7 linked regions of the Homo sapiens genome follow. The protein of the gene in region 3 interacts with the protein of the main gene of each other region in a biochemical or structural test. Each region holds a gene or a part of one and is shown on either strand. Other genes may lie near its edges. The genes, in order: ERBB4, INPP5D, SHC1, ERBB3, TEK, PRKCD and DDR1.

Region 1 (3,500 bases), on a different chromosome or scaffold from region 3:
GTGAAAGGAAAGTGAGGGAATGTCAACGGCAGGGGCCTCAAAGCTGCCTCCTCCCTGCAGCTTAACTACACAGCTCTCTTTTTATTTTACCCTTTCAGCTGTTTTAGAAACTAGGGCTATGCCTATGACTTCACTTGGAACAACAACAACAAAAAAGAGGTCCACTTACAAAAATAATTAAAAACCAATAAACTTTTTTTCTAAAAAGTCTAAACTTTCCATTTCTAATTAATTGAATTATTAAAAACATTCAAGATGTTAATAGCTTAGGCATGACTTTTAGCTACACTAATAAAGGTAAGGCGATTGAGACAGAAGCAAGTAGTCTAATCCCAGATCACATAACAAATGATTGTATGACCAGAATCCAAACCTCCTAACTTTTAGTGCTTTATTCGCTAGCATCACACAATAGCAAGGCTGTTGCTGTACTACCCACAGCTAAGGCATGCACTATTCCTATTAAAGTCTATGTGGCTGCTGCCCCCTGGAGTTGTGCAAAGTGACAGGCCTGCAGAACAATTCAAAATGGAAATAACTCTAAAACAATTATTACATGCTACATAGCCTCTTTAGAATTAGTTAACAAAACATCCACATATTTCAACTCCATATTGTAAAAGGGACAGCTTTCCTCTCTTGAAAAGTTTGTATAAATATAAAGCACTAGTTTAAGTATCAAGTGTGAAAACAAGGAAGTGGCCTTAAATCTTGATTACAGAATTGGAAAATACGGCAATTTATTTAATAAATATTTCAGAATAACCAACAACTCAGAAAAAATAAAAGAGACCATAGAACAATTCTGAAAATAATATTTTGGGGAAATTGCCCTCAAATACAAATGCCTTTGAGTTAATAAGCTCTTTATTTCATTAGACAGGTACTCTTTTGATAGAGACAGTTTGCTAGAAAGTTTACATTATGTTTCTTAATATAGGTATACATGTTTTAGATTACATGTGCAATTTAGATTACATCTATAAAAACAATTTAGTGGAATGTATCTCAATATCAAAGACTTTAAAGTTATTTTCATAAAACTGTACAGTGCAGAAATAGTGCATTATATGCATTTCTCTCCCAGGCAGAGAAGCCAAGTCACAAAGAGATGCAGTGAGTTGCTGAAGGTATTAAGAAACTCGAGAACTGTCTCTGCAAGGTAGAAATCCTGATTTAAACAATGTGACTACGTCCCATGTCCCATTTAACCACAAAATAGGCAATTAAAGTCTCCCTCAAATTATGTTGAAGACATACAGTTTCAGGAAACATTGACCTACAATTTTTTCATAAAAAGGGGTTATTTTTCATTATAAACTGAAAACTCCAGTCAATAGCTGTATTAGAAATCATAAAAAGTAAGGTTTTAACTCTGACTGCCAATATTTATAATACTTCAGAAAATGAGTATTAGATAAAACATGTAATTTGGTTCCATATGGTGAAATGTAACATAATAGAGCATCTCTAAAATGATATAACCTGGAGAAAAGTTGTTAATATGATTAAATTCTACCCTGCACAGGATACTCAGTAGATCACTGTAAAAGATAACAGTGGAATATGCTTGGTGATTAATTTCTGTAGAACAGATGTAGGCTTGAACCTCTAAAAACTAATTTCAGTACAAATATTAGCATCTCAACAAAGCAGTATCTCTCAAAACTGGTAAAATTAAACAGAGCAAGTACCAACAAGTTTGTAGGTATCAGAAAATCCGTTTTGATCATTTATTTCATTTATGTTTTAGGCACTTACAAACTATACATGGATATCCAACAGTAGCAGAACACTATAATATAAAGCCAAAACTTATGGCTATTTTTAAGAACATGTTAACTTTTCCTAATAACCAGCTTGATATAACACAAAAATAATACCGCTTTAAAGCATTGCAATGTTTAAGCCATCCTAATTCAATTTATTGTCTAAAATATGCACTGTGCATAGCCATTAATCTCAAGGTGGCTCTAATCAAGCTTCCAAGAGTACTTAGAAAGAGCACAATTCATTGCCTCACTAGCATTTTTTAAATAGCAGTGGTCCACCTTCCTTCCTTGGTCAAGAGGGGAAAAGAAAGAAAGAAAAAGGGTAAGAGGGACTTCTCTGTGGAAAGGTTTGGCCTTGGAGTCAAGGCTTTTAAGATGTGCCAGTGATCTTGGATCGATGCCTTTTTATTTTCTTTCAGGAATAAATCTGAGCAATGGAATGGCTTGTGATTGTCTGGCCAACCAGCCATATCAGATTTATCAGAAAGAATGAAAACTGGCTCAGAGGACTCCTGCAGTGGCTGAGTGGCAGGTTACTGGGAAAGACACAAACAAAAACAATATACTTAGTGGCGGAAGGGAAAATATATATTAACACATGTAAACTCAATAAATACTAAGATGTAAAGAGAGAATCTATAGTAACAGAAAGGGTGAATGCATAAGACAGATGATAAATAGTACTTCTATTTAAAAACCAAAGGGATGAAAGCTCATGAATACTACATATTTGAATCCACTTTGAGGAGGAAATACGATTTTCCATCAAATAAATGCAAACTCTAAAAATCAGCCAATGCAAACTTACTGTGTTCAGGTTAGAATAAAAAATGCATAAATCTTCCACAAAGTTCATGCTCTGATAAATATTCTAATGTAATTTCTTAATTAAGACACATTTCCAGTGACTAAATGAAAATATATATATAAAGCAGTAAGTGCCTTGATTTTCAACAAAATTTCACTTTCTATGCATACATGATTAAAATAAATAAAAGCAGTTGAGTTTAAGAGCAAAAAAAAGGAATACTGATATAACTGGAGTCATTTCATCACAACAGAACAGTTATAGTATTTCCAAGCGATTTGCAGTTATACTAACAGATATTTATTTAGACATATTGTGAAGAAAAAAATAACACCTTCTTCTAAAAAGCCCCCTTTTATATATATATATATGAGAATTTCAAATTAAAAAGAAAACATTGTACCGATAGATGTGCTTACAGTAAACACTTGTAAGAAAGAGAATTGATGCTTTCTTGAAAATATATTTAACACCTTTTTCACCACTTAACTTTTATTAACATTTTTCTTCTCAAATGAAAAATAACCCCATGATTTTGGAGATATAATGATGTATCTTAAATATGTACGAAAGCTATATGTACTTTTATAGAATGAAAAGCAAGACTGAGTTACCTGCAAAAAAGAAATGGGAACTGAACTTGTTCATCGTTTATCTACTAAGGTATATAAGAGTACCACCTCAATGCTACTATACATTTTCTTCAATACCAAGGCAATATTGATAATTTTCCATTATACAAGGAAGACGAATTTTAGAACCATTCCTTTGGTTAGCAAAGGCTTTATAATTGCCATATAAAGGGACTTTGGCTATATCTAGATATATCTAAATAAAATGCATAATTGAAAATGAGACAAAGTCCTTTAGAATTTCTAAAAAACATCCTCTCTAATGCTGAATTTTTTTCCAAGCAAAAG
Region 2 (2,531 bases), on a different chromosome or scaffold from region 3:
GTTCAAGACCAGCCTAACCAATATGGTGAAACCCTGTCTCTATTAAAAATACAAAAATTAGCTGGGCATTGTGGTGTGCACCTGTAATCCCAACTACTCGGGAGGCTGAGACAGGAGAATTGCTTGAACCCAGGAGGCGGAGGTTGCAGTGAACCGAGATCGCAACACTGCACTCCAGCCTGGGCGACAGAGTGAGACTCCATCTCAAAAAAGAGAACAGTCAGGCTATGTTGGATTTGAATCCCAGCCCTCCCACCTCCTGGCTCTGTGCCTTGAGCCTCAGTTTACCCATCTGTAAAAAGGGGCTGTTAATAGTACCTACCTCATAGACTTAGAAGGAGAATTGCATTGTAGGCTATTATGTATTATTACCATGTATTATCATCTATATAGAAATTATATATTTATATTTATGTATTTACATTGATATCCATTACATATCATTTCATATATATATACTATACATATTACATATGTGTATATATTTTATATATATATATGGTACGTACCTGGGTGTGGTGCCATGCACCTGTAGTCCCAGCTACTGGGGAGGCTGAGGCATGAGGCTAGCTGGAACCCAAGAATTCAAGGCTGCAGTGAGCTATGATTGCACCACTGCACTCCAGACTAGGCAACAGAGTAAGACCCCATTTCTAAAAAACAATTTTTTTAAATAAGCAGGTAAAGTACTTAGAGCAGTGAGTGCTGGCTCTTCTCAGCTACACGTTAAAGGAAGCCTGGCCTAGCCCACAGCATGCAGGGACCTGGGCCACTTAGTTCAACATGGCCTGGTGAGAATGAGCCCTGACAGCCCTTCTGTTCTTGTCCCACAGTGAAGCCCTCAGTGAGCTGCCACTGAGTCGGGAGCCCAGAGGAACGGCGTGAAGCCACTGGACCCTCTCCCGGGACCTCCTGCTGGCTCCTCCTGCCCAGCTTCCTATGCAAGGCTTTGTGTTTTCAGGAAAGGGCCTAGCTTCTGTGTGGCCCACAGAGTTCACTGCCTGTGAGACTTAGCACCAAGTGCTGAGGCTGGAAGAAAAACGCACACCAGACGGGCAACAAACAGTCTGGGTCCCCAGCTCGCTCTTGGTACTTGGGACCCCAGTGCCTCGTTGAGGGCGCCATTCTGAAGAAAGGAACTGCAGCGCCGATTTGAGGGTGGAGATATAGATAATAATAATATTAATAATAATAATGGCCACATGGATCGAACACTCATGATGTGCCAAGTGCTGTGCTAAGTGCTTTACGAACATTCGTCATATCAGGATGACCTCGAGAGCTGAGGCTCTAGCCACCTAAAACCACGTGCCCAAACCCACCAGTTTAAAACGGTGTGTGTTCGGAGGGGTGAAAGCATTAAGAAGCCCAGTGCCCTCCTGGAGTGAGACAAGGGCTCGGCCTTAAGGAGCTGAAGAGTCTGGGTAGCTTGTTTAGGGTACAAGAAGCCTGTTCTGTCCAGCTTCAGTGACACAAGCTGCTTTAGCTAAAGTCCCGCGGGTTCCGGCATGGCTAGGCTGAGAGCAGGGATCTACCTGGCTTCTCAGTTCTTTGGTTGGAAGGAGCAGGAAATCAGCTCCTATTCTCCAGTGGAGAGATCTGGCCTCAGCTTGGGCTAGAGATGCCAAGGCCTGTGCCAGGTTCCCTGTGCCCTCCTCGAGGTGGGCAGCCATCACCAGCCACAGTTAAGCCAAGCCCCCCAACATGTATTCCATCGTGCTGGTAGAAGAGTCTTTGCTGTTGCTCCCGAAAGCCGTGCTCTCCAGCCTGGCTGCCAGGGAGGGTGGGCCTCTTGGTTCCAGGCTCTTGAAATAGTGCAGCCTTTTCTTCCTATCTCTGTGGCTTTCAGCTCTGCTTCCTTGGTTATTAGGAGAATAGATGGGTGATGTCTTTCCTTATGTTGCTTTTTCAACATAGCAGAATTAATGTAGGGAGCTAAATCCAGTGGTGTGTGTGAATGCAGAAGGGAATGCACCCCACATTCCCATGATGGAAGTCTGCGTAACCAATAAATTGTGCCTTTCTCACTCAGCTGTGTGTGTGGCGTTTTTCCTGACATTCGGAGCCATAGATATCCTTCTAGATGGCAGGGCCTGCACAGGGCACAACTGAGGCAGTTAAGGGTTCATGGTGGTGATGGATGGTGTTGCCCTGACCAGATGGGACACCATAGAGCCAGTTTGAAGCTGGTCCTGGACTAGGAACAGGAGTAAACCGCACCCCTTCCTTCCTTCCACCCACACATCTTCCTGGCACTCCAAGCACCCTGCGGCCACCCAGAGGCCACGAGCATCCCCTCCAAACCTGCTGTCCTGCAGCCCACAAGTTCCTCCCAGCTTTTATAAGTTTTCACCACTTAAGCTGCAGTGACAAAAAAAACACGTCAACACTCCCCAGGTCATGGGTTCCCAGGTCAGGGAGTAGACCCCCGCCCAGAGGCACAGTGCGGGCCACTTCCACGGCGCCTCTGCCCCACCTTGGGCTGCCTGGCCTCTGCTTCTGCTCACAGACACCAGGCCTGGGCTCCAGGC
Region 3 (2,975 bases):
GAAAGTTTTGAAGAACAGTGAGGCAGTGCAGATAAGAGAAAGCACAGTGGTCTGAGTCCTGAGTCTGGGGAGCTGGAGAAGCCCTTGGATCTTCTTACAAAAGGAAACTTGCAGTGTCTAGCCTCTAACCATCTGACATTGGGCATCACAACCTCTTCAGGGTGGTTTCCTTATTTGTCAAAAGAGGGGCACAGATGAGATGACTGCCTTCTAGCTCTGATAAGCTTAAGGCTTGGGGATTTGAGGACGGGCCAGGACTGTATTTGTTTTGTTTTGTTTTTTCAGACAGAGTCTCACTCTGTCACCCAGGCTGGAGTGCAGTGGTGTGATCTCAGCTCATTGCAACCTCTGCATCCCAGATTCAAGCAATTCTCCTGCCTCAGCCTCCTGAGTAGCTGGGACTACAGGTGCCTGCCACCACACCCGGCTAATTTTTGTATTTTTAGTAGAGACAGGGTTTCACCATATTGGTCAGGCTGGTCTCGAACTCCTGACCTCAGGTGATTCACCTGCCTCAGCCTCCCAAAGCGCTGGGATTACAGGTGTGAGCCACCACGCCTGGCCCTGTGCCAGGACTATAAAGAACATAGTTCAGGCTAAGGGATGAGCCTCTGGAGGAAGATGCCAGACACTTTAAAGAGCAAGAGAGGCCCATAGACAGCTGCCCAGCGGGAATGTCTACAAAGCAATGAGGGAAGGAAGAGGGATACACTGTAGGGTACTGTACCTTCCTTTTTGCCACCCCTCACCCACACCTCTGCCACACTCACCACACCCTCAGGGTCCACCAGTAGCAAATGCTTAGGCTGCCCACTCTGCAAGCCAGTGAGCACATACTGGCCAGGTGTGGTCGTGCTCTCCCGTACCAGGAAGTCCCCATTGAGCTGCAGCAGTGCCTCAGCCTCCCGCCGGCTCAGCTTCCCATGGAACCAGGGCTCCCCTCGGAGCTGCTCAGCCATGGACACCGACTGGGGAGGTGGAGGCACGCGAAGAGCATCTTCGAAGGGCTCTGGAAGTATAGAGGGAGGGTGAGGGGAAGTAGCAGGCACAACACACACCCAAGACCCAGACTTCAGGGAAGGGAAGTCAGGAAGGAAAGAGCAGATAGGCAGGAGAAGGGCCAGAACCAAGTAGAAAGGTGGGGATGCAGAGAGGAGAGAGACGAGCACTCACTCATGTCAAACAGGTCCCGGGGTGCACTGCCATTGATAGCAGGATTGGGGGGCCCAGCACCACCCACTGCTTGCCGGGCCTTGTCTAGGTTCTGGACGTTGACATAGGAGGGATCATCAAAAAGCTCTCTGCCTGCTGAGGAAAGGGAGGCTCTACAGTGATCCCAGCCCTGCCTCCAACACTCCCCAGCTCTGCCTATCTCGGCTCCCTTCATACCTGGACAGGGTGGTGGAGGTGGCATCTGTTTGCGGACTTCTGGATCTCCCCCAACAGGCTGTCCTACAGGCTGCAGGGATAAAAATAAGGTGAGACCAGAAGCCCTAACCAACCACTCCCACCCTAGCCCCAGCCCGCCTCCATCCAAGCAACTTACCAATGTAGCTCCCAAGTGGCTGGGGGTCTGGGCATTGGGTGCAGTGGGTCGAGCAGCCCCTGGAGCGGCTCCTTCCCGAAGCCTCATGTCTACCACCCCCCCCAAGGGGGGTTCCTTCCCCGGGAAGTCATTATAGTACTGATGGTCAGGTGGCTCTTCCTCCTCCTCATCCCATGCTGAGCCATCAAAGCCAGCCATCCTGAGGGACAGGACAGTGAAGCTGTGGCTGTAAATGTGTGGTGGGCAGGAGGAGGGAAGGACAGAATAGAACAGCAGCCATCTATTGGGTATTTACTATGGATTAAGCCTGAGGCTGAGTGTTTTATATACATAATCATTTCATTCTCCTGGCAACCCCGTAAGGTAGGTATTGTTTCCTTCCCCACTTTTACAGATGAGGAAAATGAGGGTCAGAGGTGAAAAGATCTGCCCAAGGTCTCACAACTAAAAGGCGGCCGAGCTCAGATTTAAATTCAGGTTTGACTTTAAAGCTCATCCCCTTGGCCAGGTGCAATGGCTCACGCCTATAATCCCAACACTTTCAGAGGCCAAGGAGGGAGGGTTGTTTGAGCCTAGGAGTTCAAGACCAGCCAGGACAACATAGCGAGACCTTATCTCTACCAGAATAAAAATACTACTACTCAGCCAGGTGTGGTGGCATGCACCTGTAGCCCCAGCTACTCAGGAGGCTAAGGTGGGAGGATCACTCAAGCCCAGGATATGGAGGCTACAGTGAGCTGTGATTGTACCACTGAACTCCAGCCTGGGCTACAGAGCAAGACTGTCTCAAATAAGTAATGCTCTTGCTCTTGATCTCTGTGCTATCTCCCAACAAGGAAGGGAAGCACCATGTAGGGGGGTGGGGGGCCGGGGGAGGCACTCCAGCTCCAGAATATTTTAACCTCTCCTAAATATTCAATCCCTACTGGCTCCACTGCTTATCCCTCAAGGCCTGAGGTGGGAAAGGTTGTAATCTCAGGGAAAAGAGATATCCTCCCAAACCCAAATTCTTGATGGCTTCTAGAGGCAGGAAAACACATAATGCCAAGCAGAGAAATGAGCAAGAAAGAGGGATGGGAGTAGAAAATCCCACCTAGCCAGAGAGAGATGTAACTTGGAGGCCCCGGACTACAACTCCACCATGAGCAAACAAGAAAAGCTGGTCCTGCGGCAAGCAGGGCCTCAAAAGTCTTTCCTCCTGGGCCACAGGAAACAGAAGAATAGCAGGAAGTGGGAAGCAGAGGCACACAGGTTATTCCCTCCCTGAACCTCTCAACTCAAGTGTAGGAAGAGCAGCCCTCCTTTCCTAATCCTAATCCAAGAGCTGCTCCACACTCTCCCCACCTGCTCACCTGTCATGAGGGGTGACCAGTTTGGGTGGGTTCCTGAGGTATTGTTTGAAGCGCAACTCGAAGGCCTGGCCAATGGT
Region 4 (3,500 bases), on a different chromosome or scaffold from region 3:
AGCCGGGCATGATGGCACACACCTATAATTCCAGCTACTCAGGAGACTGAGGCAGGAGAATTGCTTGAACCCGGGAGGCAGAGGAGGCGGAGGTTGCAGTGAGCCAAGATTGCACCACTGCACTCTAGCCTGGGGAACAGAGTGAGACTTTGTCTTAAAAAAAAAAAAAAAGTATATGGGGAATTTTATACCATTCTTGCAACTTTAGTGTAGATCTAAAATTATGTCAAAATAAAAAATTAAAGGAAAAAAAAAAACAGGTGGTCATAGTGGGTTTTTTTTACACACACACACACATTTTAAATGCTGTCCTATAGACTAGAAAGTCCCTTTGTTCTTTTTGCTCCAAGGAGCAGAATGAGTGAAAACAGCTAAAAGTCATGGGGAGACAGAATTTTCTTTTCTTTTCTTTTTTTTTTTTGAGAAAGAGTCTCGCTCTGTCGCCAGGCTGGAGTGCGGTGGTGTAATCTCGGTTCACTGCAATTTCCGCCTCCTGGGTTCAAGTGATTCTCGTGCCTCAGCCTCCTGAGTAGCTGGGATTACAGGCATGTGCACCACCACACCCAGCTAATTTTTGTGTTTTTAGTAGAGATGGCATTTCACCATGTTAGCCAGGATGGTCTCGATCTGACCTCGTAATCCGCCCACCTCGGCCTCCCAAAGTGCTGGGATTATAGGCATGAGCCACCGGGCCCAGCCTGGAGACAGATTTTTATCCAAATCTAAGGAAGAACTTTTACAAAACTTTAAGAAGGAGGTTGGGTGCTGTGATCCCTAGCACTTTGGGAGGCCAAGATGGGAGGATTGCTTGAGCACAGGAGTTCGAGATCAGCCTGGGCAACATAGCAAGACCCTGTCTCTACAAAAAAATACAAAAAAATTAGTCAAGTATGATGGTGTGTGCCTATAGTCCCAGCTACTTGGGATCACTTGAGCCCAGGAGGTCGAGGCTACAGTGAGTCGAGATCACGCCACTGCACTCCAGCCTAGGTGACAGAGCAAGACCCTATCTCAAAAAAGAAAAAAGAATAAAAAAGAAAACTTTAAGAAGGAGGATATGTTGTTCCTGTCCCTTGTTCCTTGGCAGGGCGATATTGAATTGCTCAAAGATGTTCCTGAGGGGACCGAAGGCCTGGATGGAGGATGTGTTAAGCATTCTTTCAGGTCCTTTGTAACAGGCTAGAATTTTATGACTTTGATTCCTAGTCAGCTCCACATAGGAAAGTTTTGGCCAATGAAATGAACTGTGAGGGGTGCGTGGGCTGGGGTCTAAGGAGGGAAGGCAGGATCTCTAACCCATTGAGGCCGGTGATCAGAAAGTCCAGGTTGCCCAGGATCTTGGTGCAGTTCACAAATCCATCAATGTTGCTCGAGTCCACAGTCTGGAAGCGGCTCCCAGAGCCTGTTCCCTCACAGGCTGCAAATGTAAGAGAGGTTCAGTGGGGGTGGTCTGCGCAGGCTCAGAGGAAAGGCTGTCTCTTTACAACTTCTTACCATCTCCTACCCACCTTTGGGACATAGTCCCCCACAAGGCTCACACATCTTGAGCCCATTTTTATCTACTTCCATCTTGTCAGGAGGACAGGCCCTGACACAGGATGTTTGATCCACCACAAAGTTATCTAGGGAAGAGGAGGAGGACACCATTAGAGATGAGGGAGGAACATCACCAGCTACCAATGGAACCCTTGCTCTGGGCCTAGGCTCCCTCCAGCTCTGCACTGGATTTGTCCCCATCTGCCACCCTAGATCCCTTAAGTGCTGCCCTATAGATTCAAAAGTCTCTTCACTATTTGTTGCTACAAGGAGCAGAAGTAAGGGTGATAGCTGAAGTCATGGGAGGACTGGACGTAAGGGTCACTCACTGGAGTGGTTAGATGATCATAACCATTCACCAATCTCCCTATTTATCACCAACTGGATTCTTTTTCCCTTCCACAATTTTGTCTAAAATCTTGGATCTACTATTGTTGATCATTGTTCCTTCCCCTCAGACACTTACGGGGACAGCTGGCTACACAAACTCCTCCATACTGATACTTGGTGTGGGGATTGGGTTCCAGCTGGAAAGTTAGCTTGTTGTAGACAAGAGGCTGTGGACAGCGAGGTACACAGGCTCCACTGTCATTGAAGTGCCGGCAGGCCTGGGAAAAAAGGAGGCTCATCAGATTTATGTTACGTGTGTACCCCTACCTCCTCCTCAAAGGCCACATCCCAATTTCAGAACCCAGGCAATGGAAAGGGTACATACAAAGCAGTCTGTGTCCTGAGGGCCTGAGCAGCCCCCGGCACACTCATCATGGCAGCACTGGTTGGGGTTGGGCCCAAAGCAGTGACCATTACACTGAGGAGCACAGATGGTCTTGGTCACTATGGAAGGAGAGAAAGCATGGCTGTTAGGGCTCCTAGGACTGAATTCTGAGGCCACTGCTCATGCCTCCCCCACAGTGTTGACCCAGGCTTGGGGAGGAAGGGATATGAAAGCGTATGAGTGAAGTTTTTGGAGGGAATTTCAAACCCACATGTCTGGCAGTCTTCTGATCCAGGACCCCAGCATCGCCCCTTGCAAACCTCATGACAGGGGGGACCTGGTTGGGAAGGAAGGCAACACAAGGGGCCATCAGGGCTAAGAAAGGCTTGTTTTAATCAACGGGGTATGATGTCAGTACACAGGCACCTCAATCCCGGGAAGCAAAAAGCCAGGGCTGTGTCCCTCCCTGCCCTTGGAGAGCAGGGCTGGGCTCAAGTGGACCTGTCAACAAGGGGCGCGGCCACGCCTCCACACCACCCACTGGGCAGCTGAAGGGGAGGGACTGGGGCAAATGCCAACCTTAGTCCTAGTCCCAACCCAGGAACTTAGTTCCTCCTGGGCAAACTGAATATATGCAGGAATATATGCATGTGAATGGTCAGGGGAAGGTGGGCTCCAAGGAAATGGGAGTATATTCTAGTGGAACGAGTAACAGATGTGGAGTCTAAAGATCTGGCTTCCCTGCTTAGTACTCAGGGATTTTTTTTTTTTTTTTTTGAGACAGGGTCTCACTCTGTTGCCCAGGCTAGAGTACAATGGCACAATCACAGCTCACTGCAGCTGCAGCCTCCTGGGCTCAAGCAATCCTCTGCCTCAGCCTCCTGAGTAGCCGGGATTACAGGTGCGAGCCACTACGCCTGTCTGATTTTTTTAATTTTTTGTAGATTTTTTGCTATGTTACTCAGGCTGGTCTTGGACTCCTGGGCTCAAGCGATCCTCCCACCTTGGCTTCCCAAAGTGCCAGGATTATAGGCATGAGCCACCATGCTCGGCCTGCTCCTTTTCTTGAAACACCTCCTCTGTGGTTTAGATTCCAGGAGACTGGAATGGTCTGCCCTGGTGGGCTGCTGAGTCAGGGACCTGAGGTGTTTGTTCACTGGGGAGGCGGGTTCAGATCAGGAATGTAAGGATGATGGAAAGAAGGGAGTCACTCTGGTTTGGTGGGACTGGGGAGCAATCTTGATCACGG
Region 5 (3,500 bases), on a different chromosome or scaffold from region 3:
CACTCATAGATGGGAATTGAACAGTGAGAACACATGAACACAGGAAGGGGAACATCACACTCTGGGGACTGTTGTGGGGTGGGGGGAGGGGGGAGGGATAGCATTAGGAGATATACCTAATGCTAAATGACGAGTTGATGGGTGCAGCACACCAGCATGGCACATGTATACATATGTAACTAACCTGCACATTGTGCACATGTACCCTAAAACTTACAGTATAATAATAATAATAATAATAAAAAGAATTAAAAAAAAAACAAAAAAACCTGGGCCCAGAGACACATTCACTACAAAGCTGATGAAGTTTATGTTCTAGAGACTGCTGGCATGCACCGCTTCCTGGGTCCTAGCAAAGTGTTCATAGTTTGCGTAACATTTTAATTTTTTTTAAAATACAAGGGATCTGCCCCCTGCCTGGAGTCACCTTTTACCTTAACATACACACTTCAGAGGCCAGATGGGATTTCTCCACTGCTGTGGCTCACTGCATGTTCCGGGGGGCAGACATAGCATTTAGAGGGAACTGAATGAGGTATTGCAGGTGGCTGAAGCTTACTTTTGTGTAACTCTCCTCTTTGTCCTCCTCCTCCAAGCCCCTGGAGCTATGCTGTCCAGTACAGTTAGCCACGTGTGGCTATGGAACTCTTAAAATATAGCTAGTCCAAACTGAAATTTCAAAGACTTACTATGAAAAAGGGAATGTAAAATATCTCATTAATACTTTTTTCTATTGATTACATGTTGAACTGATAATGTTTTTAACATATTGGGTTAATAGATCAAAATTATTTCACCTATTTCTCCTCACTTTTTTAATGTGGACACTAGAAAATTTTAAATTCTATATGTGGATGGCTTATATTTCTACTGAACTGCTCTGCCCTGGAGCATTGTTATCAAGTTGCTGGGACCCCATCGTAGCTACCTTTAGTGCCGGATATGGGAAAAGCTGACTTTGTGAGATAAACACTGAAAAGCCTTTGAGCTCTGGCTAATTCACAGTATTAATATACATTAGGGAGGTTCTGTCACATTTGTCTGCAGGTTCATGTTGAGCTACTATGCAACAGTAGATGTGAAATGCATACTGAAAAGTGGATGTCAGATGCACTCCACAGAGCCTGGTCAAATGGGAAAGCTTATTTTACAAAGGGCAGAGGGACTCTGAGTAGATGATGTTAGTACTACTTGCATAAGGTCCACGGCAGGTAAGATTTTAACTTCTTCAATTTTTGAGCCCCAAATCCTGTCTGGATCTGACATAAAAGCTCTGATTTTGATTTTTTTTTTTTTAAACGAGGTCTCACTCTGTTGCCCAGGCTGGAGTGTAGTGGTGCAATCATAGCTCACTGCAGCTTCAAACTCCTGGGCTCAAGGGATCCTCCTGCCTCAGCCTCCTGAATAACTGGGACAACAGGCATGTGCTACCATGCCTGGCTAAAGCTGTGATTTTATGATTCACTGAAAAAAAAAAAAAAAAAAAACCAAAAAAAAAAAACAAGTCTTCTATGGTCTTCCTACTCAAAGCATGGTCTGAAAACCAGTAACATCGGAACTACTTGGGAGCCTGTTAGAAATGCAGAACCTCGGGCCCCAGTCCATGCCTACCAAATCAGAATCCGTGCTTTAGTAAAGATCCCCAGATGATAGTTATGAGAAGTACTTTCTATGCGGTCTAGATTTTTACTGTGAAAGTATAATTAACATTGGATGTAAACATCCATGATTCAAAATCCTGTTGTCCAGTAGTGGGTAGCTAAGCAGTCCAGGTATATCCGATGTTGTGATTGACAGCAAACTGGATCTCCTTTATATACCTGCTAGAACATCCTCTGTCCAAGGGTGTGATTGGTGCATACCTTCATTGCACTGCAGACCCTTCCAGCCTGTGGCACAGGAACACCCATAGGGGTCAGGGAGACAGAACACATAAGACTTGCATCCCTCTTGTCCACTGCACCTTTCTTTACAAGTTCTGCCAAACGTGTGCAGTTCACAAGCTTTGGGAGGAAAAGAAAAGATGATTCAGAGTCAAATATGCAACCCCTTGAAATACATAATTCTTTAGATTCATTTCTCCTAGTCTAGTGAATATGGGAAACAGTCAAATCTCAGCTGTGGCATGGTAGGATGAACATACCCTTATGGCCCATTTTACTGATAATGAAACTGCCCCACAGAGCAGACATCAGGGACATCACTCACAATCATGCAGGTTTGTGCAGTGCACAAACCTAGGGGGCAGCATTCACACTGTAAACATCACGGATCTGTATATTTATTATAACTTTCCAGTGGTTGGCATTAAAGAACCTTTAGGAAAAGGCACCTTTTTCTAATTCACACACAGGTACCATCTGACCTAACAGAGGCCATTTAGCGTCCATTCCCATCTGTGTCGAGATCTAAAATTCTAGATCCAGCAACGATGGCTTTTTAAATCCACAGCTTACTTATCAAGTCTCTTTACTTACCCTTCTCACACGTCCTTCCCATAAACCCAGGAGGGCAAATGCATTCTCCAGTATCTTCATGGCAGACACCATTGTTCATACAAGCAGTACAGAGATGGTTGCATTCAGGTCCCCACTTCTGGGCTTCACATCCTTTTGTTAAGGAAAACAAGGCTGTGGTGAGTAGAGCGCATTCGCTCAACACATCTTTATTGAGCACCTACTGTGTGTCAGTCATTCAGTGGACAATGGTGAATAAAGATAAAATACAGGCTCTGCTCTCTAAAAGCTCATCATCTAATATGGGAGACAGACATGTAAACAGGAAATCGCGACAGAAACAAAGACAAGGAGTACCTAACTCTGTCTGGTGGATAGAAGAGGGCATAAAGGAAGGCTTCCCAGAGGATATGGTATGCAAGCTGAATCTGCAGGACCAACTAAGTAGCAAAGAAGATAAGGCTGGAGAGTGTCTTCCAGGCAAAGACAAGGCATGGGAAGACAGCATGGCATGTCCAGGGAGCTGCAGGTATGGTTACAGGCTGGAGCTGTGGTTTTCAAAGTGTGGTCTCTGACCAGTAGCATCCCCATCATCTGGGAATCTGTTAGAAATGCAAACCCCAGATCCCACCCAACCACGACCTACTGAATGAGAAATTCTAGAAGTGGCGTAGTAATCTGTGCACATTGGTGTCAGAAGTGTTGTGTTCAGTGAGAGCAGAGATTAGGAAAAACACTTTGGTTTTCCTATCTCAAACAACTATATATCAACATGTATAGGTATGTCTGACCTTCCTAGAAGATGTACCCCATTTACCCTCTGAGTACACCTAGTACATGGTGTTATATCAGACTCCAGAGAAACTAGCTAAATGAAATAAAGGCAAATTGCTTCCTTGACATTCAGACTCTCCTGAGTAGTGGAATAAAAGGGGATGTCACTTGCTTCTCCCAAGTCCACAGAAACTTCATGTAAAGGTAGCTGTGAGGCAAGCTACTAGAAGCTGAATATTGCAGTTTTGCTATCATCATAAATTATATTTT
Region 6 (3,500 bases), on a different chromosome or scaffold from region 3:
GACTGGTCCATGGAGTCGATGAGGTTCTTGTCGCTGTAGGAGAGGCGCGCCTTCTCGTTCAGGAACTCCTGGTCAAAGTTACTGTAGTCTCTGGGTGACTTCTACAAGCAGAGGGCAGGGGTGAGCGAACAGGACCTAGGGAATGGCCCTCCAGACACCCCAGGCTGGAGTCCCTGCAGGGCTGGGCCAGGCCAGAGCTGTCCTCACCCAGAACAGAAGACAGAGCCTCCCCTAGCAGCCTGAAAGGAGCCCCATGGGAAGGAGGCTGCCATTTCCCCAAGAGGATGAGGAAAGTGACCAGGGAGCTCTGGGCCTGGGTTAGGAGAGGTGGTAGCCTCTTGCTCAGAGACCACCGAATCACAGCCCAGGGAGGCTCACTTACCACCTGTTTTTGTGGGGACCACAAGCTAAGAATGGCTTTCACATTTTTAAATGGTTGGAAAAAAAATCAAAAGAAAAATATTTCATGACATGAAAATTAGGTGAAATTCAAATTTCACTTTCCATAAATAAAGCTTTTGTAATACACAACCATGCCCATTTGTTGACATACTGTCTATGCCTGCTTTGAGACCATCAAGCCTGAAAAGCCTAAAATATATACTATCAGGCTGTTTACAGGAGAAATTTGCTGATTCTCTGCTCCTGAGGATATGATGGGATGGTAATATAGAAAGACCGCAAGCTGGTGGCCCTTCAGCCAAACTGAACTGGCAAGTACAATCATTTCGGCTTGTACTGGGTTTTAATGGAATTTGAACCTATATTTTATTTATTTATTTTTATTTATTTATTCATTTAGAGATGGAGTCTCACTCTCTTGCCCAGGCTGGAGTGCAGTGGCACGATCTCGGCTCACTGCAACCTCCACCTCCTGGGTTCAAGCGATTCTCCTGCCTCAGCCTCCTGAGTAGCTGGGATTACAGGTGTGCACCACCGTACCCGGCTAATTTTTTTTGTATTTTTTGTAGTAGAGACGGGGTTTCACCATGTTGGCCAGGCTGGTCTCGAACTCCTGACCTCAGGTGATCTGCCTGCCTCAGCCTCCCAAAGTGCTGGTGTGGGCCACTGTGCCCGGCCTGAACTTATATTTTAAAATTGAGCAATGCAACCTAAAAATCCAGATTTCCAGCTTCTTTTGAAAACTGGCAGATTAAAGCAGCCCTGGGCCCACTTCCTGCCCACTCTTGGTGCTAAGAGCCCCCTGGACAGCCCCTGCCCCACTGACAAGGGGTACATCACACCTGCTTTGTGTTTCTTAGTGCGGAGAAGGAAATCTATCAAAAGTGAGACTGAAAGCAGGCTGTGTGATTTTCTTGCAGCTGGCCTAGCCTGTCAGTTACATGCTCAGCCAGGACACGTCTGAGTTTGAGGTCCCTGGTGTAGGGGAAGTGCTCTGTAGCCTCAAAGCACAAATGTGGGGCGCATTACACAGGCTGCCCAGTGGGAACTGTGTGCCCTGGTGGAGGAGGGGAATCAAAGGACAGAAGGGGAGTGGGAAGGAAGAACTGTGGTCACAGAGGGGCCACACAGCCCCAAATTTCTTAGTGGCCCCACCTGCCTCTGCTCTCAGGCTGGTTCCTTGGTAGCCCTGTAGATTCTGGGCCTGTGAGTGAACCAGCCCCTCTTCCACCTGGAATGCCTCCCAGCTGTCCCTTGTCTCACTTCTTCCAACGGGGCCTCTCAGACCCACCCTCTTCTCTGCCACCTGGGTTCCTGCTGACAGACCCACTCAATAGCAACGGATCATGTGTCCTGGGGCATCTCTTATACTGTCATCTCGTATCACAAATTGTCATAGGTGTGCAAGTTTCTTATCTCTCCAACTAGCTGAGAGCTCCTCCGGTTCTGGGACTGCATCTCCCACTTTGCTGTGCAGCCCAGCACTGTGCTCTGCATTCAACAGGGACTCAGGATTCCCCATATGTATTGGAAAATGGATTGAATGGAGCGATAAAGTGAGGTCTTAACTCTATTTCCCAAAACAGGGTCCTCTGCATACAGTGGGATCCACAGTCCCCAGTGTGTGCTGAATGACTGAGTCAGGAGGGAGAGGATGAGAATACAAGGGCAGCGGCTGTGACTGAACATGCTATGGAGATTGCTGGAAGAAGGGAGAGGTGGAAAGCGTGTGAATGATGCAGGAGAGAGGGAGGGCAGGAGAGGAGTAGCTCAGCCTGAAGGCAGCACAGGGCAGGATCACATACCACTTTGGGCCTGAAAGGTGGCTCCAACCTCCGCTTTTCCAGCAGAGTCCAGTTTATGGTCTTGAAGAAGGGGTGGATTTTGATGTTTCCGGTCACTCCCAGCCTCTTGGTTGGTTCCCTTTCAAAGAGCTGCAACCCAGCAGGGACCCTGGTTAGCACCCAAGGGCCATGGGAAATTGGAGCTTCAGCAAATCCCCAGCAGGCCCAGGGATGCAAAGCCAGGCTTGCCCCAGCCCCAGTCAGCCTGGGGAACGGTGGGGCTGAGGGAGGCCACTCTGGCCTGCAGTGCTCCCAGCTCCCCCGGAGATGACAGGCTCTGGGCTGGACATCTGCGACTCTGCTGGTGGAACTTTTTATTATTTACTATCTGCCTGGCCCACAGCTGAGCATCATATGTTTCTATTTTCTTCCCAACAACTCTGTGAGTCAAGTCTGCTCATAGCCCCATTTTACAGATAAGGAGACAAACTCTGAGAGGTTAAGTGACCAGCTAGTCCCAGGCAGAGCCAGCATTTGGCCTCGGGTCTGTCTCCTGACCCTGGGCCCTTAGTCACCATGTCAGGCTGATTCTATGCACAGGACTCAGACAGGAGTTCCTGGGAACATGGTGAGAGAGCAATACCCCGTATGTTAGGACTGCAGCACCACTGAGGCTGCCATTCCAGAGACAGGAAGCTCCTCACCCAAAGCCCAGTGTCTGCCAGCCCCTGCCCCAGCCCAGCCCAGACCAGCCCAGCCCAGCCCAGGGCCTCCACCTTCTCCAGGATGTCCTTGGACTCCTTGGTGATCCAGCGGGGATAATGTGGCGTGTCCACACGGATGGACTCGAAGAGTTCATCCTCATCATCACCATGGAAGGGGGACTGGCCAATGAGCATCTCGTACAGAAGGACCCCGAAAGACCACCAGTCCACAGAGAATGTGTACTTCAGGCCCTGTAGGATCTGGCGGTGGGGAGAGCAGCAGGTCAGCAGGAGCTGAGGTGCTGAGGCTGAGAGGGGCCCCTGGGCACGAAGCCTAGCCAGGCCGCCTCAGCCTATGGGCTTTGGCTTGGACATCACTGCCCTTGGGAATCCTTCCCTGGCCCACCGTGGGGAGGCAAGGTGCCTGACTGAGCGGGGGGCTGGAAGGGTATCGGCTCACCTCAGGGGCGATATAGTCAGGGGTGCCGCAGAAGGTGCTGGCCCGGCTCTCCCCGAATATGTTCTCTTTGCACATCCCAAAGTCGGCAATCTTGATGTGGCCATCCCGGTCCAGCAGCACATTGTCCAGTTTGAGGTCCCTAAGGACAGG
Region 7 (3,069 bases), on a different chromosome or scaffold from region 3:
GCCCCTGCGCAGCCTGCCCGTCCCCAGGGGCCCCCTCGGCTGCCTTGTCCTCCAGCTGGTGGGCACTGAGGAACTGGTTGAGGTCGCCGTTCTCCATGTAGTCAGTAATCATGCAGAGGGGGTCGTCCTGCACACACACGCCCAGCAGCCGAATGATGTTTGGGTCCTTGAGCCTCGACATGATCTTCACCTCTTTCAGGAAATCATTCCTGGAGAACAAGGAGAAGCTGAAGAGGAATGCCGAGTGGGCGGCCTGCACCTTCCCCCGCGCCCCCACCCCCCTGCCCCACCTCAGGCAGACCAGGCGTCCCCACCCCCAGCGTACATGTAAATCCCCTCCCAGAGATGCCACCCCTCTGTTGGGCTCTGCCATTGTTCTCTCTAGATGGCTCCCCACTCTTCACGGCCTCCCCTCCCTTCTTCCAGATGCCATCCCTGGTCCTCACCTGGCATTCTTGGTGGCATCTGGCCGTAAGATCTTGACAGCTACCAGCAAAGGGTGTCCCTTACGCACATTAAGGGGGAAATCAAGACTAACCAGATCTTGAGGGCTGTCGACCTCACACAGGTGCACCTGGAGAAAGAAGTTCGTTTGCTAGGCGGTCACAGGGTCAAACGGATTAACACGGTTACAAATGACTAAGGTTCCTGGCTAGGGGGATGCGCAGGCATGGCATCAGAGCACACAATAGGGCCAGACACTGGGTAGGCACCCTCCTTACCTCCCCAAACTGGCCCTCGCCAAGCTTCTCCTTGAAGCGGAGTCGAGATCGAGGGAAATCCACTCTGGGGGGCCCATCCCCGACTGCCCCTGGGGGCAGTGCAGGCACAGCATAGGTGTTGCCCCCGGTGACGCCCTGCAGGGTAACAATGTCAGCCTCGGCATAATGGGGGACGCTGTTCTGGGGAGGTGGGGGCAGAAGCGGGGCGCCTGGCTTCTCAGGCTCCATATAGTCCCCACTGTAGGCTGCAGGGGTGAGGGGAAAGAAGACAGGACGAGGCATCAGGAACAGCCCAAGAGCTATAGTTCCCCACACCTCAGCCTCCCGGAGGGCCCTGTGTCTCCCGGTTGAGTGAGAGACTGGGTCTATGCTGTATCTTCCCAGTATTCCATGCGCCAACCTCAAACCAGGAAGACACTGGCATGGGACGAGAGTTAGCTATTCCAGAGCTTTTCAAGGCAATGAATATGGTTGAGCAAAACTGTCATAAAGTCTTACTCTTTTAGGGCCTCCCTAGGGTCTCTCAAGAGACTGTGAGATAAATCTTGGCTGGAAGAAGAATTCCTCCCCAGGAATTCTCCCGCCTCAGGATGGTCCCAGCATCCAGGCACCCTCCACCTTCCAAACCCTTGTCCCGTTCACCACAGCTCCCTCCCCTTCACTTAGCTGCTCTCCCGTGGCTTTCAGCCTGGCTCCCCCTGGGGCCAAGCCCTCCCAACCCTTTCAACCCAACACACCAAGCTCAACAACAAGCAGAGACAGAGGCACACAGAGAGGAGGGAGGGTAACAGCTGCTCACAGCCCCAACACAAGTTGTCTACAGACAGGAGAGGAAGCAGAGCTGTCCCCTCTTAGCCCTGGGGAAGGGGCCACAATGAGAAGGCAACACTGAGGAGAAGAGGGGCAGATGGAAAGGGTTGGGGCATGAGCCTTCACCTCTGGGACTGCAGAGAGAGGACACATGTGAGGGAAAGGGCAAGCGCCCGGGGTGAGAGCCCTCCTCCTCGCAGCTCTAGAGAGAGTGGAGAATAAAGGAGGAGTTACTATAGTCTGGGGCCACCACAGCAACCTCCTGTCTAGCTCTGGAGAGCTGAAGAGATGGCGTGGAAGAGGAGGAGGGAGAAGAGCTGGGGACCAGTAAGCTTTCTACTCCTCAGCTCAAGGGGGGGACCTTAAAAAAGAGCAAGCAGCAGCAGAGATGAGCTAAGGGCACAAGAGCTTCCTCCTTGGGAGCTCAGGAGAGCAGAATAGGCCACAGTGGGGAGAGGAGGAAGTGCAAGGTGTGAGGGCTTTTCCCTGCCCCAGTAGAGGTATGGGGAGCCTGGCGGAGCCCAGGGGCAGAGGGGCTTACCCTGGGTGTTGGTGGGTTTGGCCCAGGCGGGTGTGGGGGGGCCCGGGCCTCGAGGGGGACGGGCGTAAGTGGCCAGAAGGAGGCGGTAGGCTGGATTGGAGAGCAGCAACGCTGTCGGGAGAAGGAGGAGGGGAAACACGGGGAAGGGATGAGACTCAAGGCTAGACAGACAGGGAGACCTTGAATAGGGCAAGACCAGGGCTGATGGGATGATTGCATTAAGAGACAGACAGGATAAAACAAGGATCTGCAGAGTGACGGACGGCTGGCTGGATAATGAATGCATGGACAGATGGGACGTATGAATAGATGGATGGATGGTAAACAGATGTTTTGTTGGATGGATGGATAACAGATGGAAAGATGGATGTGTGAATATAGATGGATAGATGGATGATGGATATGGGTGGGTGGATGGATGGATGAATAGATTTATGAATATAGATAGAAAGACAGATGATGGAAGATTGATGGATGGATGCAAGGATGTATGACTATGGATGGAAGGATGGGTGATGGAGGATAGATGAAGGAACAAACATGGTGAGTCTAATACAAAGCAAAGGGGCCAGGGAGACACAATGAGAGGGTACAACAAAGATAGAGAGATGTCTGTGGGACACAGACAAGATAGCACCACGGGGGACTATGGGTAATACATGGGGAACTCTTGAGAGAGACTACATGGTAGGGACAAAGAGTGATATAGACAGTAACCAGGGGCACAGAAAGAAGAAAACAAGTGGAAACTGGGGAAGACAGGAAAAAAAGAGAATGGGAAAGGGATACAATAAGAAAACAGCAGAGAGGACAGAGGTGCGACTGGAACAAGGCAGGTCTTACCAGAGCCATTGGGGACACAGGGAGCGGAGTGGGGCGGATTCCCACGAGGCCGGGGCTCCTGGTACGGGGGTGGCTCTCTAGGACCTGGGCGGTTGTTGATGAGGATAGTGTCCCCAGGGACAGAGAGGTGAACCGTCAGCTCCTCTTCCAACA

The links.
Region 1: the proteins of SHC1 (region 3) and ERBB4 form a complex in vitro, tested with the Homo sapiens proteins (2 studies listed by BioGRID and IntAct, with this or other methods).
Region 2: the proteins of SHC1 (region 3) and INPP5D form a complex in vitro, tested with the Homo sapiens proteins (2 studies listed by BioGRID and IntAct, with this or other methods).
Region 4: the proteins of SHC1 (region 3) and ERBB3 form a complex in vitro, tested with the Homo sapiens proteins (2 studies listed by BioGRID and IntAct, with this or other methods).
Region 5: the proteins of SHC1 (region 3) and TEK form a complex in vitro, tested with the Homo sapiens proteins (one study listed by BioGRID).
Region 6: the proteins of SHC1 (region 3) and PRKCD form a complex in vitro, tested with the Homo sapiens proteins (one study listed by BioGRID).
Region 7: the proteins of SHC1 (region 3) and DDR1 form a complex in vitro, tested with the Homo sapiens proteins (one study listed by BioGRID).

What each region holds. Positions count from the first base shown.
Region 1 is NC_000002.12:212,532,303-212,535,802, forward strand, and holds part of ERBB4 (receptor tyrosine-protein kinase erbB-4 isoform JM-a/CYT-1 precursor), read right to left. Parts: intron 1-3,500. UniProt on the Homo sapiens protein: Tyrosine-protein kinase that plays an essential role as cell surface receptor for neuregulins and EGF family members and regulates development of the heart, the central nervous system and the mammary gland, gene transcription, cell proliferation, differentiation, migration and apoptosis.
Region 2 is NC_000002.12:233,205,873-233,208,403, forward strand, and holds the end of INPP5D (phosphatidylinositol 3,4,5-trisphosphate 5-phosphatase 1), read left to right. Parts: intron 1-833; coding exon 834-836; coding exon of another isoform or gene 837-885; 3' UTR 886-2,031; downstream 2,032-2,531. UniProt on the Homo sapiens protein: Phosphatidylinositol (PtdIns) phosphatase that specifically hydrolyzes the 5-phosphate of phosphatidylinositol-3,4,5-trisphosphate (PtdIns(3,4,5)P3) to produce PtdIns(3,4)P2, thereby negatively regulating the PI3K (phosphoinositide 3-kinase) pathways.
Region 3 is NC_000001.11:154,964,773-154,967,747, forward strand, and holds part of SHC1 (SHC-transforming protein 1), read right to left. Parts: coding exon 2,899-2,975; intron 1,773-2,898; coding exon of another isoform or gene 1,746-1,772; coding exon 1,547-1,745; intron 1,460-1,546; coding exon 1,390-1,459; intron 1,309-1,389; coding exon 1,174-1,308; intron 1,010-1,173; coding exon 771-1,009; coding exon of another isoform or gene 597-770; exon of another isoform or gene 514-596; intron 1-513. UniProt on the Homo sapiens protein: Signaling adapter that couples activated growth factor receptors to signaling pathways. Participates in a signaling cascade initiated by activated KIT and KITLG/SCF.
Region 4 is NC_000012.12:56,086,665-56,090,164, reverse strand, and holds part of ERBB3 (receptor tyrosine-protein kinase erbB-3 isoform 1 precursor), read right to left. Parts: intron 2,589-3,500; coding exon 2,523-2,588; intron 2,371-2,522; coding exon 2,252-2,370; intron 2,145-2,251; coding exon 2,003-2,144; intron 1,623-2,002; coding exon 1,509-1,622; intron 1,418-1,508; coding exon 1,297-1,417; intron 1-1,296. UniProt on the Homo sapiens protein: Tyrosine-protein kinase that plays an essential role as cell surface receptor for neuregulins.
Region 5 is NC_000009.12:27,171,725-27,175,224, reverse strand, and holds part of TEK (angiopoietin-1 receptor isoform 1 precursor), read right to left. Parts: intron 2,610-3,500; coding exon 2,478-2,609; intron 2,004-2,477; coding exon 1,863-2,003; intron 1-1,862. UniProt on the Homo sapiens protein: Tyrosine-protein kinase that acts as a cell-surface receptor for ANGPT1, ANGPT2 and ANGPT4 and regulates angiogenesis, endothelial cell survival, proliferation, migration, adhesion and cell spreading, reorganization of the actin cytoskeleton, but also maintenance of vascular quiescence.
Region 6 is NC_000003.12:53,188,709-53,192,208, reverse strand, and holds part of PRKCD (protein kinase C delta type), read right to left. Parts: intron 3,490-3,500; coding exon 3,351-3,489; intron 3,152-3,350; coding exon 2,963-3,151; intron 2,337-2,962; coding exon 2,208-2,336; intron 102-2,207; coding exon 1-101.
Region 7 is NC_000006.12:30,894,519-30,897,587, reverse strand, and holds part of DDR1 (epithelial discoidin domain-containing receptor 1 isoform 2 precursor), read right to left. Parts: coding exon 2,917-3,069; intron 2,185-2,916; coding exon 2,074-2,184; intron 968-2,073; coding exon 723-967; intron 575-722; coding exon 447-574; intron 228-446; coding exon of another isoform or gene 210-227; coding exon 1-209. UniProt on the Homo sapiens protein: Tyrosine kinase that functions as a cell surface receptor for fibrillar collagen and regulates cell attachment to the extracellular matrix, remodeling of the extracellular matrix, cell migration, differentiation, survival and cell proliferation.